Regions from separate parts of the Homo sapiens genome. Here region 2 is linked to region 1. Evidence: fine-mapped expression QTL. Tissue or cell type: whole blood. Region 1 holds a variant in brackets; the other region holds the start of a gene. All regions are shown on one strand. Distances are between the middles of the regions.

Evidence for each region. PIP is the estimated chance that this variant, and not a neighbour inherited with it, causes the effect.
Region 2: PCDHGC3 starts here. The variant in region 1 is fine-mapped to the expression of PCDHGC3 in whole blood (TOPMed, PIP above 0.99). The same link has a PIP of 0.9 or more in blood mononuclear cells.

The regions. Positions count from the first base shown.
Region 1 is chr5:141,503,315-141,511,373 of GRCh38, forward strand. PCDHGA1 (protocadherin gamma subfamily A, 1) reads left to right here. Exons shown (of 4, transcript NM_018912.3): 3 at 2,079-2,167; 4 at 7,633-8,059. The coding sequence ends at 7,859. It overlaps PCDHGA2 (protocadherin gamma subfamily A, 2), which reads left to right. Exons shown (of 4, transcript NM_018915.4): 3 at 2,079-2,167; 4 at 7,633-8,059. The coding sequence ends at 7,859. It overlaps PCDHGA3 (protocadherin gamma subfamily A, 3), which reads left to right. Exons shown (of 4, transcript NM_018916.4): 3 at 2,079-2,167; 4 at 7,633-8,059. The coding sequence ends at 7,859. It overlaps PCDHGB1 (protocadherin gamma subfamily B, 1), which reads left to right. Exons shown (of 4, transcript NM_018922.3): 3 at 2,079-2,167; 4 at 7,633-8,059. The coding sequence ends at 7,859. It also overlaps PCDHGA4, PCDHGB2, PCDHGA5, PCDHGB3, PCDHGA6 and PCDHGA7, and 13 more genes. Among named protein-coding and RNA genes, the nearest start is that of PCDHGC5, 18 kb to the left of the region's middle. RefSeq lists enhancers at 4,302-4,351, 4,622-4,671, 5,527-6,027, 5,842-5,891, 7,202-7,291 and 1 more. The variant A/C (reference allele first, on the strand shown) is at 4,366.
Region 2 is chr5:141,472,545-141,480,603 of GRCh38, forward strand. PCDHGC3 (protocadherin gamma subfamily C, 3) reads left to right here and starts at 3,422. Exons shown (of 4, transcript NM_002588.4): 1 at 3,422-6,002. The coding sequence starts at 3,573. All of the region lies in intron 1 of PCDHGA1 (protocadherin gamma subfamily A, 1), which reads left to right. All of the region lies in intron 1 of PCDHGA2 (protocadherin gamma subfamily A, 2), which reads left to right. All of the region lies in intron 1 of PCDHGA3 (protocadherin gamma subfamily A, 3), which reads left to right. It also overlaps PCDHGB1, PCDHGA4, PCDHGB2, PCDHGA5, PCDHGB3 and PCDHGA6, and 12 more genes. RefSeq lists enhancers at 3,162-3,271, 3,729-4,272.

The sequences.
Region 1 (8,059 bases):
GGAGGGGCGCGGTGGCTCACGCCTGTAATTCCAGCACTTTGGGAAGCGGAGGCAGGTGGATCATGAGGTCAGGAGTTCGAAACCAACCTGGCCAATATGGTGAAACCCCATCTCTACTAAAAATACAAAAATTCGCTGGGCATGGTGGCATGTGTGCACTTGTCGTCCCAGCTGCTCAAGAGGCTGAGGCAGGAGAATCACTTGAACCTGGGAGGCAGAGGTTGCAGTGAGCCGAGATCGCGCCACTGTACTCCAGCCTGGGTGACAGAGCGAGACTCCAGCTCAAAAAAAAAAAAAAAAGAAAAAAGAAAAGAAATAATTATTGAATCAATGGAAACAGAATTACAACTCTTCCCACTTTTGGGAAGGAGAATTGAGATTCCTGCTTTCCCCTTCAACCCTAGCTTTATGTTTGTTGTGATGGTATAGAGGTCACACATGGCAGCCTTGTGTCTGTTCTTAGGCTGAGTTCATCTACTTAGGGACGGGGAATCCCAGATTGGGCAAAACCAAAAGCAGGGACAGACCTTGGAAAAATTGTAAAGCAGTTCTTGGTTGTGCTCACCCACCATGACAAAATATGCACACACACAACGCAACACACACACAGACATTTTCATGCCTTCAAGGCCTACCCTACAGCCTTTCCCATGGTGCCAAACCCTTCTTCTTACCTTACAGTCACTTAACTGTCTCTGCTGGTCTCTTCCCACTCATTTAGGCAACAAATATTTATTGAAAAACTTCTCTGAGCCAGATGGTGCCAAACAGTTACCTAAAGGGCAGACTGTGTGTGTGCCAGGGCTGTTTCCCGCCAACACTCCCCTGCAAATTGAAATAATTTCATCCTTGGAAATTCAAAAAAATCATGAAAATTGTCACTGTGGGAAAATTCCAAGTAGAGCTGAACCTTCTAAGAAGCAGAGAGTTCTTCTTATGGTTTAGTATTTTTTTAAATTATGAATCATTTCATGTTTTTTCAACACTCGGAGTTTCTAAAAGTCTCACTTAGGTCCAAGTGCTAGGCTTTGTGCTAGGTGCTTCAGTAGGAAGCAGGTGGAGTCGCTGCCTCACAGAAGCCAGTGTGGTGGAGGAACAGACAGGCACTACAACAGCTGCAGTGTGACTAGTGCCATGTGGGGCAGCCGCTGGGATGGGAGTACAGTGGAGGCACCTGCCCAGTCTGAGTGGATCTCCTCTGATATATTTTATTCGTGTCATCATGGCAAATGTTGGGGGACTGGCATTCTAGGGAACACCATCTGCCCAGGATTCACAGCAAGAGGGAACTTGAGGGATAGGAAAGTGCACCTTGGAAAAGGTTTGATGATAGAGTGTTTGAGGGCGGGGGGTGGGGGTTCTTGTAAAATAGGAGGGGCAGGTTCTTCTATGGCCGTGGATTTTACTCTGAGGGCTTAGGAAGCCATTGAATTTTAGAAATTTCTTCTCCCTGCTCCAGGGTCTCTTGGGGCCTCCTACATCTCCCCCTAGGTACCTCCTAGGTCCCCACTTTTTCTCTAGCTCTGGAACATTCTCTTCCATTTCCCACCTTCACAGTCCTCTGGAGAAGGTCTGATCTCCCTCACTATGACAGGAAGCCAGGCTCTCTCATGGTGGGTGGGGGAATGCACTATGTTCAATGCATTGGACCAGCCTGGCCAACATGGTGAAACCCCGTCTGTACTAAAAATACAAAAATTAGCCTGGCACAGTGGCAGGTGCCTGTCATCCCAGCTACTTGGGAGACTGAGGCAGGAGAATCGCTTGAACCCAGGAGGTGGATGTTGCAATGAGCCAAGATCGCGCCACTGCACTCCAGCCTGGATGACAGAGTAAGACCCTGTCTAAAACAAAAAGAAAAAAGCATCGGAGGCAGCAAAGAGCTGGTTTGAGGGACTGACTTGTGGGATTCTGGCTTCTGAAGGATTGTAGAAGTGCCTCCTACCTTGCTGAGAGAAACAGGTCTTGGGCATGGGGTAGGGTTAGGGTACTAGGTTTGGGAGCCCTGGGAGAGGACAGGAGGGGCATGAGCTGTGCCGGCCTGGGAGTCTGTGCTCACCATCCTACTCTCTCCCCAGCTCCCAAAATGGCGATGACACCGGCACCTGGCCCAACAACCAGTTTGACACAGAGATGCTGCAAGCCATGATCTTGGCGTCCGCCAGTGGTAAGTGGTGTCAGTGTGTGTATGGAAGAGTGGGAGACCTGGGGTTCTGGGGTGCATCTCACAGCCACCATGCCCACGGACTGGATGTCAAACCTGTGTAGTTTCTCCAGATCTTTCGGCAGGTCTGAAAGGACCCACAATTCCAAACATAAAGCCTGGAATTGTGGCTAAGGAACAGCAGAGGGGTTGGGGGTCCTGGGATGCCTGGAGGAGAGCGAACAAGGAAAAGACTCATGGAGGGAATAGTGGTTACAAGTCTAGCTCTGGAATGGGACAGTGTAGCTCAGGTCCTAGCTCTGCTACTATCCTTGGGACTTGGATCGACTTGCTCAATCTCTCTAAACCTCAGTTTCCTCAGCCTAGAAAGTGGGGACAGGGACCCCAAAGGGTTGTTGTAGAGATTAAATGAGATGATACCACAAAGCATAGAGTTCTGGGCCTGGCGCTTGGAAGCCCTCAAGCAATGAAAGTGGGTGTAGAAATCCCCAGCCGAGAGAACACCTCCTCTTTATGCGAGGCTCCTCTTTTGCTGCCCCTAACTCCAGAGTAGGATTCTGGTTTTCCCATAAGGTTGACTAAGGGCTTCCTTTGTAATAGAGATTCGGCTAGTGGTGGTTGTCCCTGAAGAGTCACTAGGGCCCAGAGCAGGAGAAGAAGAATATCATTTGTCCTTAAGAGCACAGCCTAAGCTGGGCGTGGTGGCTCACGCCTGTAATCCCAGCACTTTGGGAAGCTGAGGCAGGAGGATCATGAGGTCAGGAGTTCGAAACCGGCCTGGCCAACATAGTGAAACCCTGTCTCTACTAAAAATACAAAAATTAGCTGGGCATGGTGGTGCGTGCCTGTAGTCCCAGCTACTTGGGAGGCTGAGGCAGGAGAATCGCTTGAACCTGGGAGGTGGCTGTGGTGAGCAGAAAATCGCACCACTGCACTCCAGCCTGGGCAACAGTCTCGCTCTGTCTCAAAAAAAAAAAAAAAAAAAAAGAGCACAGGCTTTAGAGGCAGGCCAATCTGGATTCAAATCCTGGCACCTGGCACCACCACTTAGCAATGAGTCCTTAGGTAAGTTATTAAACCCCCTCGGTTTCACTTACTATTAATGGGCACAGTATTAACGGATCTCATTGTGGTGTTACCAGGGCCAAATGCAAGTCCCTCAGCACAGGATTGGCAGAGAGTAAGGGCACAATATATTATTATCTTTGCTGACCCAAACCCGTTTTTTACTGGGTAGAAAGCAGAATTAGAATAATGCCTATTAATAAAGACTAGCTTCTGGAGCAGCAAATCCTGGGCTTATAAGGAGGCTGGCAGAGGATCAAGGCATTGCCCTATATCATGAACTGATAGCCCTGCCCTCCAGCATGTCTGGAGGACTGGTGGGTAGAGAACCAGGTGAAATCACAAGAAGCACTGTCATCACACCTGGGCACATACTAAACAAACTTTAGGGGCCTCCTGTCAATGAATCCTCTCAATAGCTCTGCAAGGCAGGTCTGATTTCTCACACTCGACAGATGAGAGAACCGAGAAGGCACTTGCCCCAGGGTCCTCAGTTTTGAGCTGCCAAGCTGAGGTTCTAACCTGGCTCAACTCCTAAGTTTATGCTCTTTCTACTATAGGGACCATGGCTGCCTTTGGATCCAGCCTCGGCTTCTCTATTACCTGAGCAGGATGAGAGGCTGTCCTCTTCCTCGAGCTCTGCTTTATTCTTCCAGATCAGGGTTGCCAGATAAAATACAGGATGCCCAGTTACAGTTGAATGTCAGATAAACAGCAAGTACTATTTCAGCATAAGTCAGTCTCAAATGTTGCATGAGACATAATGTACTAAAAAAAAAAATGCTCATTGTTTACCTGAAATTCAAATTTAACTGGGAGCCCTGTACTTTTATTTACTAAATCTGGCAACTCTACCCCAGATGTCTGTGAGGTTAAGTGGGGCCAGGCCTACAGCTGACGGAAGGACAGAGAGAGAGGTGGCAGGGACTGCTGGCCTCCTGAGGCAGAGCTGTCCCAGGTCTGGTGGGGCTATGATTCCAGAGAGGCCAGAGACTGAGTATGAAAGTGGCAGGCGGCTGGGTCTGAGGAGATGCCAAGTTGGCCTCTTGAGGGAAATAAACAGGTATATTTAGCTGTTGTGGCCTTGCGCCCTGAGGCCAGGAAGCAGCTTTTTAGCCTAAATCCAGATGTTAAAA[A/C]CAGAAATGAAATCAGTATTTATGGCCCCAAACCCTCCAAGCAAGTCATGCAGCTCGTTCCCCTGTCAAGGCCTCCCACCTTTGGCCCACACAGGGCCTGACCCTCGTCTAAGCCTGCGCCCTGGGGAACGGACCCTGGGGGTGGAGGTGGTGGGTCAGGCCCTGCTCTCACTTTCACACCCGCTTCCTAGCCCTGAAACCAGAGAGGTTCCTGAAGTCCAGCCCAGCCAGGCCTGTGGGGCTGCTGAGAGGGGTTAAGTAAGAGGGAGAGTAAAAACCGACACTTGGGAGGAGGCTTTTAAAATAAACATCTGCGGGGAGGGATGCTCTCAAGGAGGCTGCGGTTTGCAGCTCAGCCAGCTGTGTTCCAGCTAATCAGCCTCCTTGGGCTACTCTGGAGTTGCTGCCTTGGCCCTGGGATGGGGTAGGTTAAGAGGACAGAGGGAGGTCAGGGAGCTGGGGGCTGAGTTTCCCTGAGTAGAGGCTGGCACAGGAGAGAAGGCATCACCCCCACCTCGTCCAGGCCAGAAGATGTCCAGCTTCTTGAGGCTCTCCTAAGTCTGCCTCTCCTGGGACCAAGAGAAAATCCCGGTCCTTGACCAAGGTGGGCCTTGGGGGGAGTGGGGTGTAGAGGGAGGGGCACTGGAGAACTGACTCTACAGAAAGTCAAAGCTGGCAATCCAACTTCTTCCCCTCAGATTTATAGATGGGAAAACAGGCTTGAGCCACGCAGAGACTTGACCAAGCTCACACAGTTCCTTAGTGGCAGAGCAGAGCAAATATTCTCTTTCTTTTACATTCTGGATTTCCATATCTTCTCTCCCTCCTGGTCCAGCCCAACCTCAGGGCACCCCCCACGAGGTGGGCGGGGGATGGCTTTGTCACTTGCACCCACTCGGGGTGCTACTCAGAGATCTTGGGTGCACATAGGACGTGGGTGGGCCGAGCTTCTAGCTACTCCGTCAGGCCCTTCCTGTCATTCTGTCTCTGCCTCCCTTCTCCCTGCTTCTCCGTGTTCCTCCTCATTCTTTTCTGTGTGCAGGGAGACTACACCCCCCACCCCGCTCTTTCTCTGGCGCCTCTGAGGTCCCCCCTCTAGCCCCTAAATCACTCTGGAATCCTGGCTCTTTGAAGCCAGATCTGGGCCCCCCTCCCCTACCCCTTCCATTCCCAGGCTGGGAAAGGCTGAAGAGGCTGACGGCTGGAGGGGAGGGGGCGGGGCGGTGGCGGATCTGGCTTCCTTTTGGAGTTAATTAGGGAAAACAGAGAAATGTCAGCGGAATGAAAGGGCTGGGGGTGGGGGCCAGCTGGGGTAGGAGAGGAGGAAGTGGGCAGCTGCTCCCTCCCACTCAACCCCTCTCCCCCGCCCCCAGAAAGCTCTCAGCTCCGGGGATTTGCGACATGAAATGGGGGCTGTAGAAACCTGAGCGCTGGTGCGTGAAGAGAAAAACCGAGGCGCATCCCGGCTCTCCCCTCCCGTGTGCCCTCCTCCTCTTATGCCGGCTTGAAAATATTTCCTGTCTCTCTATTTCTCAATCCCTGGTTGATGTCCCAGGATTACTCAGCCTCTCCGGCTTTAGTCACTCTCGCTACCCGCTCCCAGGGTCCAGGGTGGAGGCAGAGGGAGGCTGGGAGAGAAGCTCTACTGCCAGCTGGGCCTGGGCTGGCCTGGGCATCCCTGAGGTTTTAACTGTCTCCTAACCACAGAGGATCTCAGGGCCTCCAGCAGCGAGCCCCAATGAGTCAAACTCTTGTTTCCTCCTCTCCCACCCCCGACCCAGTCAGGGCAGGTGAGGGGTAGAGGTGATGGCATGCTGGATGTGACGGTGTTGATGATGTATTGCACAGGATGAAGCACCATCTCATTTAGTCCTCACAGCAGCCTTCACAGTGCGTACAAATCAGCTGGCAATTCCGAGAGGCTGCATTCTAAACAAGTTCCTGGGTGATGCTGAGCCAGGGCCAGAGTGTGGACTTCTCTGGGCCCCAGTTTCTTCTTCTGTACAGTGGGACGTTGGACTGGAGGTGCTGTCTGATGTCACCTAGCTGTGGCACTCTGAGCCTGTGCCTAAAGTGTCCCTGAGATGTCTAGTCCCCGAGATCATCATCTCCTCAGCTTCATAGAGCCGAGCTCTTCTCCATCTTCTCTCTACCTCCCATTCACTCAGAACAGGGATAAGGTCCAAGCTGCTGGTGGTGATGGTGACTGACTGTCCCTTCCAGCATGCGCTTAGGTACACTTGGGCCTGAATGCCCCTCTAACAAATGCTACCGGGTATGGCCTTGGTCCTTCTAACACTTGGTTCCCTCATCTGTAAAATGAGGGTCATACCACATAGCTGGCTGGGCTGTTATGTAGAGGTTAAAAGTGATTGTGCATGTGAAGCATCCAGCAGAGTGCCTGGCACACAGTAGGTGCTCAAATGCTGTTTTGAAATACAAAAATTAGCTGGGCTAGTGGTGTGCACCTGTAATCTCAGCTACTCAGGAGGTTGAGGCAGGAGAATCACTTGAGCCCAGGAGGCAGAGGTTGCAGTGAGCCGGGATCGCGCCACTGCACTCCAGGCTGGGCGACAGAGCAGGACTCCATCTTAAAAAAAAAAAAAAAAAAATGCTGTTTTGAAATGGAGGCTTGGAAGAGCACTCTTCACCCCCACCCCACACACTTACTAACGGAACTACCGAATCTCTACTCGTGCCAGGCCTTGCTTGGCAAAGGCTAGGGGCATGTAAAGCCATGGTTTCATGGCTGCTGCCCTCCAGGAGCCCATGGTCTAGTGTGGGAGTCAGAGGCTCCCTTGAGAAAGCCAGGGCAAGGAACTGAGAGCCCGTGTCACAGCCCTGAGAGAAATACCAGCGAATGTGTTTTGAGCACTTACATCTACCAGGCACTATTTTACGTACCTGACATACATTTTCTTATTTAGCATTCACTAAAACCAGAAGAGGTGGTTACCATTATCATCCCCATTTTGCAGATGAGAAAACTGAAGTGGCATAAGGAGGTTAGGTAGACTTGCCCAGGATCACAGTGAGTAAGGAAAGGAGCTAGGAATCAAACCTAGACTTTCTCACTCCAGAGCCTCTTAACCTCTACCCTCAACTCTTGTGAAGAGAGACTACCTTGGTGACCCCTATATTCCCAGTGCTCAGCGTGGTCAAGGCCCAGGGTGCTGTATAGGCATTCATTAACTGCTGGGGATATAAGACAGTGACTGTTGAGGACCCTAAGTTTAGCTCCCACCTGATCTTCCTCTGTCTCTGCAGAAGCTGCTGATGGGAGCTCCACCCTGGGAGGGGGTGCCGGCACCATGGGATTGAGCGCCCGCTACGGACCCCAGTTCACCCTGCAGCACGTGCCCGACTACCGCCAGAATGTCTACATCCCAGGCAGCAATGCCACACTGACCAACGCAGCTGGCAAGCGGGATGGCAAGGCCCCAGCAGGTGGCAATGGCAACAAGAAGAAGTCGGGCAAGAAGGAGAAGAAGTAACATGGAGGCCAGGCCAAGAGCCACAGGGCGGCCTCTCCCCAACCAGCCCAGCTTCTCCTTACCTGCACCCAGGCCTCAGAGTTTCAGGGCTAACCCCCAGAATACTGGTAGGGGCCAAGGCCATGCTCCCCTTGGGAAACAGAAACAAGTGCCCAGTCAGCACCTACCCCTTCCCCCCCAGGGGGTTGAATATGCAAAAG
Region 2 (8,059 bases), 31 kb before region 1:
AAAAAAAATTATATTATAAATGCTGCATCTCATTGGTCAGAAGCTCTCTTGAAATTATAAAACAAAGAAGAAAAAAGATAAAGACTGGGAAATTGTGTTGAATCAGTATATAAATCCTGTATACTGGTCCTTCCATTTCCCCTAGAAATAAGTGATACAGGCCAGGCGCTGTGGCTCACACCTGTAATCCCAGCACTTTGGGAGGCGGAGGCTGGCAGATCACCTGAGGTTGGGAGTTCAAGATCAGCCTGACCAACATGGAGAAACCCCCGTCTCTACTAAAAATAGAAAATTAGCTGGGCATGGTGGCACATGCCTGTATTCCCAGCTACTCGGGAGGCTGAGGCAGGAGAATTGCTTGAACCCAAGAGGAGGAGGTTGTGGTGAGCCAAGATTATGCCATTGCACTCCAGCCTGGGGAACAAGAGTGAAACTCAAAAAAAAAAAAAAAAAGAAAGAAAAAGAAAAAGAAAGAAGGAAGGAAGGAAGGAAAGAAAGAAAGAAGTGATACAACAAGTTACAGCATCTTTGTTTATTATCCACTGTGAGTTGTATTACCACACTTTACTTGGCTCTTTGGCAAACTATATTATCTCTTCAGATCACTAGGGCTAGGAAGGCCCACTGGTAACTTGAAGGAGTAAATGTATCTTCTAAAAAATGCTTACTTCCAGGGAGATTGGATCCACACAAGTGAATACATATATAGTCCTTAGTGTATGCTATGATTATTTTACTATGTCAGTAGCATAAAGATTGCTATATTAATAAGCATTAAGTGCCTGCTGTGCTAGACAGTGAGGATGCAAGTGGCCACCAAAATAGCATGGTCCCTGCCCTCCTGGAGCTTCTTTTTTTCTTCTTCAGTGGGGGAAGCAGATACTTTGCTTATGCAAAAATAATTATAAAATTTAAAGTTGTGCCAAGTTCAATGGAAAAAATATAAGGTGTTCTGAGAGAGCATAACAAAGGATCCTGGTTTTAACTGGGGCCTAATGGAAGACCTCTATTAGGAAATAACATTTAAACTAAGACCAGACAGACCTGTAGAAATTAGCAAAGCAAAGGGAGGGAGGAAAAAGCAGCTTTCCTGGCAAAGGAACAATTTGTGTGAAGGCCCTGAGACAGGGAAGGGCTGGGGTTCTGACCACCCTCCAAGTGGTGCAATGGAATATAGTGAGAGAGGGAGAAGACATGAGAACTTGGATACTATGCAAAGGATTTGGTATTTTAATTCAAGAGCAGTATGATGCTACTGAGGAGCAGCTGGACAATTGTGTGATCCAATTAAAATTTTAGGAAGATGAACCTCGCTATTGTGGAGAATGCATACACAAGGGTTCTGTTGGTTCATGAAGAGGTCTTAAGAAAACTATGAGCTGGGTGCAGTAGCTCAGGCCTGTAGTCCCATCTACTTAGAAGTCTGAGGCGGGAGGATCCCTTGAGCCCAAGGAGCTGGAAGTTACAGTGAGCTATGATTATTCCACTGTACTCCAGCCTGGATGACAGAGCGAGATCCTGCCTCAGAAACAAAAACCAAAAAACAAACAACAACAAAAACAACAACAACGAAAATCTCAGAAAACTACAGGCCTTATTATCAAGAAAATGACAGGCCTTATTATTGAGAAAACTACTTACATTTTTAAAAGCTGATTTTCAAAAACCAGATTGTGAATTAAGTGATGCTGAATAGGGGAAAAAAAGACTGATAAACCAGTGTATCTCTGAATAACCCACTAGATCAGTGCTTGTCAAACTTTAATGTGTTTTCAAATCACCCTGATGTTTTGTTAAAATGTAAGTCATGTCTCAGTAGGTCTAGAGGAGGGCATTTCTGCATTTCTAACAAGCTCCCCGGTGATGCCTAGACCATTGGTCCTCACACTTTGAGTAGCAAGTGATTGGGCTATACTCTTTATTCTAAATTCTAAATGTATTCTATCTTCTAATGCCTATCAGCCCTCTTGCTGGTCTGGCTAATTATCAAACTTGAGCATTTAAAACTGGGGGTTTTCAGAGATTAATTGAAGTGTTAAAGACATGGAAATATAGGTCACATATGGCTTTTCATCTCTTCCGGAAATATCCTATATATCCTTACTTCTTTTCTACCTACCTAACCTATGTGCCTACCCCTTCACTTATGTTCAAGGTTCTATTATACTTCAAAAGGACTCTATGCAATCAAAGTGATGTCCAAGACAAATATACAGAAATAGTATGAGGCTCTAACACTTTACATCTAATGGAGTGGTTTGCATCATTAATTGAGGCTTACTCTGTGCCAGGCACTTTACCTGCCTTCTTCATTTAATAGGATAGGAGCAGGAACTCTTAGAGGTTCATTTCTTGTTCAAGGATATACATCTCATCTCTGGCTTATATCACAGTGGACTCTTTTATTCACTATCCTAATCATTATAATTTTGTTTGGTGACAACAATTCTAAATGCAGAAAAGTTAAGGCTCTTTATTCTGTGACTAAAGGCTTTGTATTTTCTAAAGATTTGTGGAGCTTTGCTGCCATTATTTCAATAATTTTATAAAGATCCTAGGTGGTAAATAGGCCTGGCTTTTTTTCTTTTTGAAATCTTCTCCGTCTTCTTCTTCATTAGCAGTGCAACTTCTTGTGGCATATGGTACCCAAGATCTTGGGAAAAGGATTGATCAAGTAAAGGGAAACGATAGAGAGAGTGTGCTCTACAACTGAGATCATGCTCCTTGTGAAAGACAGGGTAGGGAAATTTCTTATTGCTCCCTGGTTCTTAAGAAATGAGAGCTAACAATGACATCCAGTTTTAAAAGAAATAAAATCTGAATTGTACTTTTAAATTTTATAAGCCAGAGTTAAACCAATAGATTGTAACTCCTGCTAATTTGATAGTAGCTCCAGATAATGAGGAAGTGACAGGGAATGCTAATTTCATTTGGTAAGAGATAAAACTGAAATTATTAATGTCTCCACGGAAATGCTAAATGCCTCCTTACAAGTAGGGTCCGGCTAATTGTCTGTCTTCCAACAAGCCAGATTTGTTGGTGTTTTTCCAGACAATGTTGTGTAGTTTTCGGTTTGGTTCGATCCCCTTTCTTGTGATCAAAGAAAGTGATTCAAATGTTTAATGAGTCTTGATTTGGATTGGAGACTTGCAGAACGGCTAGCCTCACAGCCCCAAGGCTGGCTTTCCCTAAGGTAGGTTTCCTATGCACCGATACTGGCAAGGCGCTTTGGCTGGAAACTCTGGAAGGAAGCCAAAGGAAAGTGAAGTTCCTGGCGCTAGCGCGTGTCCTGCTCAGAGAGCCCGGCGCTAGCTCATTCTTCGTGCAGTTATTGGCTGGGACTCTGTGTGCCGCTGTCGGCCAATGAAGACGCTGGAGATCGGGCCCCTGCCCGTCCCCTTTCTGCGCCCCGGGATGAGGCAGAGACTGAACAGCCGGCGAGCAAATCAACGGCATCCAGAAAGCCATGTCGGACTCGGCGCCCAGCGCCCAAGCGCTAACCCGCTGAAAGTTTCTCAGCGAAATCTCAGGGACGATCTGGACCCCGCTGAGAGGAACTGCTTTTGAGTGAGATGGTCCCAGAGGCCTGGAGGAGCGGACTGGTAAGCACCGGGAGGGTAGTGGGAGTTTTGCTTCTGCTTGGTGCCTTGAACAAGGCTTCCACGGTCATTCACTATGAGATCCCGGAGGAAAGAGAGAAGGGTTTCGCTGTGGGCAACGTGGTCGCGAACCTTGGTTTGGATCTCGGTAGCCTCTCAGCCCGCAGGTTCCGGGTGGTGTCTGGAGCTAGCCGAAGATTCTTTGAGGTGAACCGGGAGACCGGAGAGATGTTTGTGAACGACCGTCTGGATCGAGAGGAGCTGTGTGGGACACTGCCCTCTTGCACTGTAACTCTGGAGTTGGTAGTGGAGAACCCGCTGGAGCTGTTCAGCGTGGAAGTGGTGATCCAGGACATCAACGACAACAATCCTGCTTTCCCTACCCAGGAAATGAAATTGGAGATTAGCGAGGCCGTGGCTCCGGGGACGCGCTTTCCGCTCGAGAGCGCGCACGATCCCGATGTGGGAAGCAACTCTTTACAAACCTATGAGCTGAGCCGAAATGAATACTTTGCGCTTCGCGTGCAGACGCGGGAGGACAGCACCAAGTACGCGGAGCTGGTGTTGGAGCGCGCCCTGGACCGAGAACGGGAGCCTAGTCTCCAGTTAGTGCTGACGGCGTTGGACGGAGGGACCCCAGCTCTCTCCGCCAGCCTGCCTATTCACATCAAGGTGCTGGACGCGAATGACAATGCGCCTGTCTTCAACCAGTCCTTGTACCGGGCGCGCGTCCTGGAGGATGCACCCTCCGGCACGCGCGTGGTACAAGTCCTTGCAACGGATCTGGATGAAGGCCCCAACGGTGAAATTATTTACTCCTTCGGCAGCCACAACCGCGCCGGCGTGCGGCAACTATTCGCCTTAGACCTTGTAACCGGGATGCTGACAATCAAGGGTCGGCTGGACTTCGAGGACACCAAACTCCATGAGATTTACATCCAGGCCAAAGACAAGGGCGCCAATCCCGAAGGAGCACATTGCAAAGTGTTGGTGGAGGTTGTGGATGTGAATGACAACGCCCCGGAGATCACAGTCACCTCCGTGTACAGCCCAGTACCCGAGGATGCCCCTCTGGGGACTGTCATCGCTTTGCTCAGTGTGACTGACCTGGATGCTGGCGAGAACGGGCTGGTGACCTGCGAAGTTCCACCGGGTCTCCCTTTCAGCCTTACTTCTTCCCTCAAGAATTACTTCACTTTGAAAACCAGTGCAGACCTGGATCGGGAGACTGTGCCAGAATACAACCTCAGCATCACCGCCCGAGACGCCGGAACCCCTTCCCTCTCAGCCCTTACAATAGTGCGTGTTCAAGTGTCCGACATCAATGACAACCCTCCACAATCTTCTCAATCTTCCTACGACGTTTACATTGAAGAAAACAACCTCCCCGGGGCTCCAATACTAAACCTAAGTGTCTGGGACCCCGACGCCCCGCAGAATGCTCGGCTTTCTTTCTTTCTCTTGGAGCAAGGAGCTGAAACCGGGCTAGTGGGTCGCTATTTCACAATAAATCGTGACAATGGCATAGTGTCATCCTTAGTGCCCCTAGACTATGAGGATCGGCGGGAATTTGAATTAACAGCTCATATCAGCGATGGGGGCACCCCGGTCCTAGCCACCAACATCAGCGTGAACATATTTGTCACTGATCGCAATGACAATGCCCCCCAGGTCCTATATCCTCGGCCAGGTGGGAGCTCGGTGGAGATGCTGCCTCGAGGTACCTCAGCTGGCCACCTAGTGTCACGGGTGGTAGGCTGGGACGCGGATGCAGGGCACAATGCCTGGCTCTCCTACAGTCTCTTGGGATCCCCTAACCAGAGCCTTTTTGCCATAGGGCTGCACACTGGTCAAATCAGTACTGCCCGTCCAGTCCAAGACACAGATTCACCCAGGCAGACTCTCACGGTCTTGATCAAAGACAATGGGGAGCCTTCGCTCTCCACCACTGCTACCCTCACTGTGTCAGTAACCGAGGACTCTCCTGAAGCCCGAGCCGAGTTCCCCTCTGGCTCTGCCCCCCGGGAGCAGAAAAAAAATCTCACCTTTTATCTACTTCTTTCTCTAATCCTGGTTTCTGTGGGGTTTGTGGTCACAGTGTTCGGAGTAATCATATTCAAAGTTTACAAGTGGAAGCAGTCTAGAGACCTATACCGAGCCCCGGTGAGCTCACTGTACCGAACACCAGGGCCCTCCTTGCACGCGGACGCCGTGCGGGGAGGCCTGATGTCGCCGCACCTTTACCATCAGGTGTATCTCACCACGGACTCCCGCCGCAGCGACCCGCTGCTGAAGAAACCTGGTGCAGCCAGTCCACTGGCCAGCCGCCAGAACACGCTGCGGAGCTGTGATCCGGTGTTCTATAGGCAGGTGTTGGGTGCAGAGAGCGCCCCTCCCGGACAGGTAAGGTTTAGCAAGTCATGCTTGACCCTGTTAGTGCTTTTTTATTCCTACATCATATTGAGGAAGGAATGGAGCTGTTTTTTTAGTGATGAAGATGTTTTCCTGGTGATGCATTCACACTTTCAACTGGCCCTTCCTAGATCAAAGTTAGTGCCTTTGTGAGATGGTGGCCTGCCAGAGTGTGGTTTGTGGTCCCATTTCAGGGGGAAGATACTTGACTCATCTGTGGACCTAATTCACATCCTCAGCACTCTTTTGCTATCACAACTAACCAATCTTGCTAAGGGATGGTTAAGCTAAAACACAAGATCTCAGCGATCAGAGTTTAGCTTGGTATCATTTACATTAGGAATAAGCTGCTGGATACCTCTAACCAGTGGCAGCTTCTAGGAATACAAAAACTACCTCATTCCTCCACCTTTCAAGTGATTGTGACATTTGTATTAAAACTAATAGCTTTTTGATAATTTTCCTTTGTTTATACAGATCGTGTACCTCATTCTCAGATAATTTTTTATGAATGAAATGAAATTCCAGGCATCCTTTAAATTTTATTTCAAGCATTCTACTGGAAATGATGTGCACCCTGCTTACAAAATATTTTTACCTTATAACAGTAATGCATGTTTGCTAGAAAATTCAGAAAATACAGAAAAGTATTTAAAAAATTAAAACTATAATCTCCAAACCCAAAGATAACCATTTTTAATTATAAAAGTAATAATTTATTTCAAAAATAAATCTAGGCAACCCAAGAAAACATAAAGTAGCCAGACTCAGTGGTGTGCACCTGTAGTTCTTGCTGCTCAGTGCCTGAGGTGGGAGGATTGCTTGAGCCCAGGAGTTCTGGGCTGTGGTGCACTATGCTGATCAATTGATCAATCCACTGTCTGCACTAAGTTCAGCATGAATACAGTGACCTCTTGGGAGGGCAGGACCATCAGGTTGCCTAAAGAGGGGTGAACTGGCCCAGGTTGGAAGTGGAGAAGGTCAAAACTGCTGTGCTATCCAGTAGTGGGATGACATCTGTGAATAGCCACTGCACTCCAGCCTAGGCAATATAGGGAAACCATGTCTCTTTAACAATAACAACAACAACAACAACAATCCCAGAAACTACAAAAGGAGAGTCTTTTTGGTGCCTCCAGTGTTAGTCCCTGTCCTTCCAGCCTTATTTTTCTTAAGTATATGCACAATGTGAAAGGTAGATAAATTCATATCCTTAGACAGGTAAAGCATTCATTAATTCAGGGTGGTATGCAAGGATACTATCCAAGGCATGGTATCCATGCAAGGTGACTGCAAGGCCTTTGCCCTGGAGAGAACCCTATACATACTCTCAACTGTAGGAGAAACACTGTTATTTTGTTACTCAGTGCATCATTGCTATCAACTCTTGGATTTGGCAGTTAGTCAAATGAGGTTCTACCATTTACCAACTAGGAGTCTGTGGCCAAGTTACTCAATCTCCTTTCTAAGCCTCTTCCTCATATGCAAAAAGGGAATAATAAGTGTTTTATAAGATTCATGCATGATATAATGTATGCAAAGTGTTTAGCATGGTGCCTGGCATATCATAACTGTTAAACAATTATTAGCCAGCTCCTAGCATTTTGGGAGGCTGAGGCAGGCGGATTGCTTGAGGCCAGCAGTTCAAGACCAGCCTGAGCGACATAGTGAGATCCTGTCTCTACAAAAAAAAAAAAAAATGTGTTTTCATTAGCTGGGTGTGTTGGCATGCACCTGTGGTACCAGCTACTTGGGAGGCTGAAGTGGGAGAATTGCTTGAGCCTGGGAGGTTGAAGCTACAGTCAGCTGTGATTGCACCACTACACTTCAACCATGGCAATAGAGTGAGACCCTGTCTCAAAAAAAAAAATTATCAGCTATTACTATAATTATTTTTATTAGTTCCTCACTCACCTAAAATCTCAAACACACCTTAGAAATACACATATGAGAACAACCAAAAATGACAAAGTAGAAGCACATATGAAAAGGCTAAGAAAGCATGAAAGCCAGCAAGAAATAACTGCCGCTCTTCTGGTCAGCCTGGA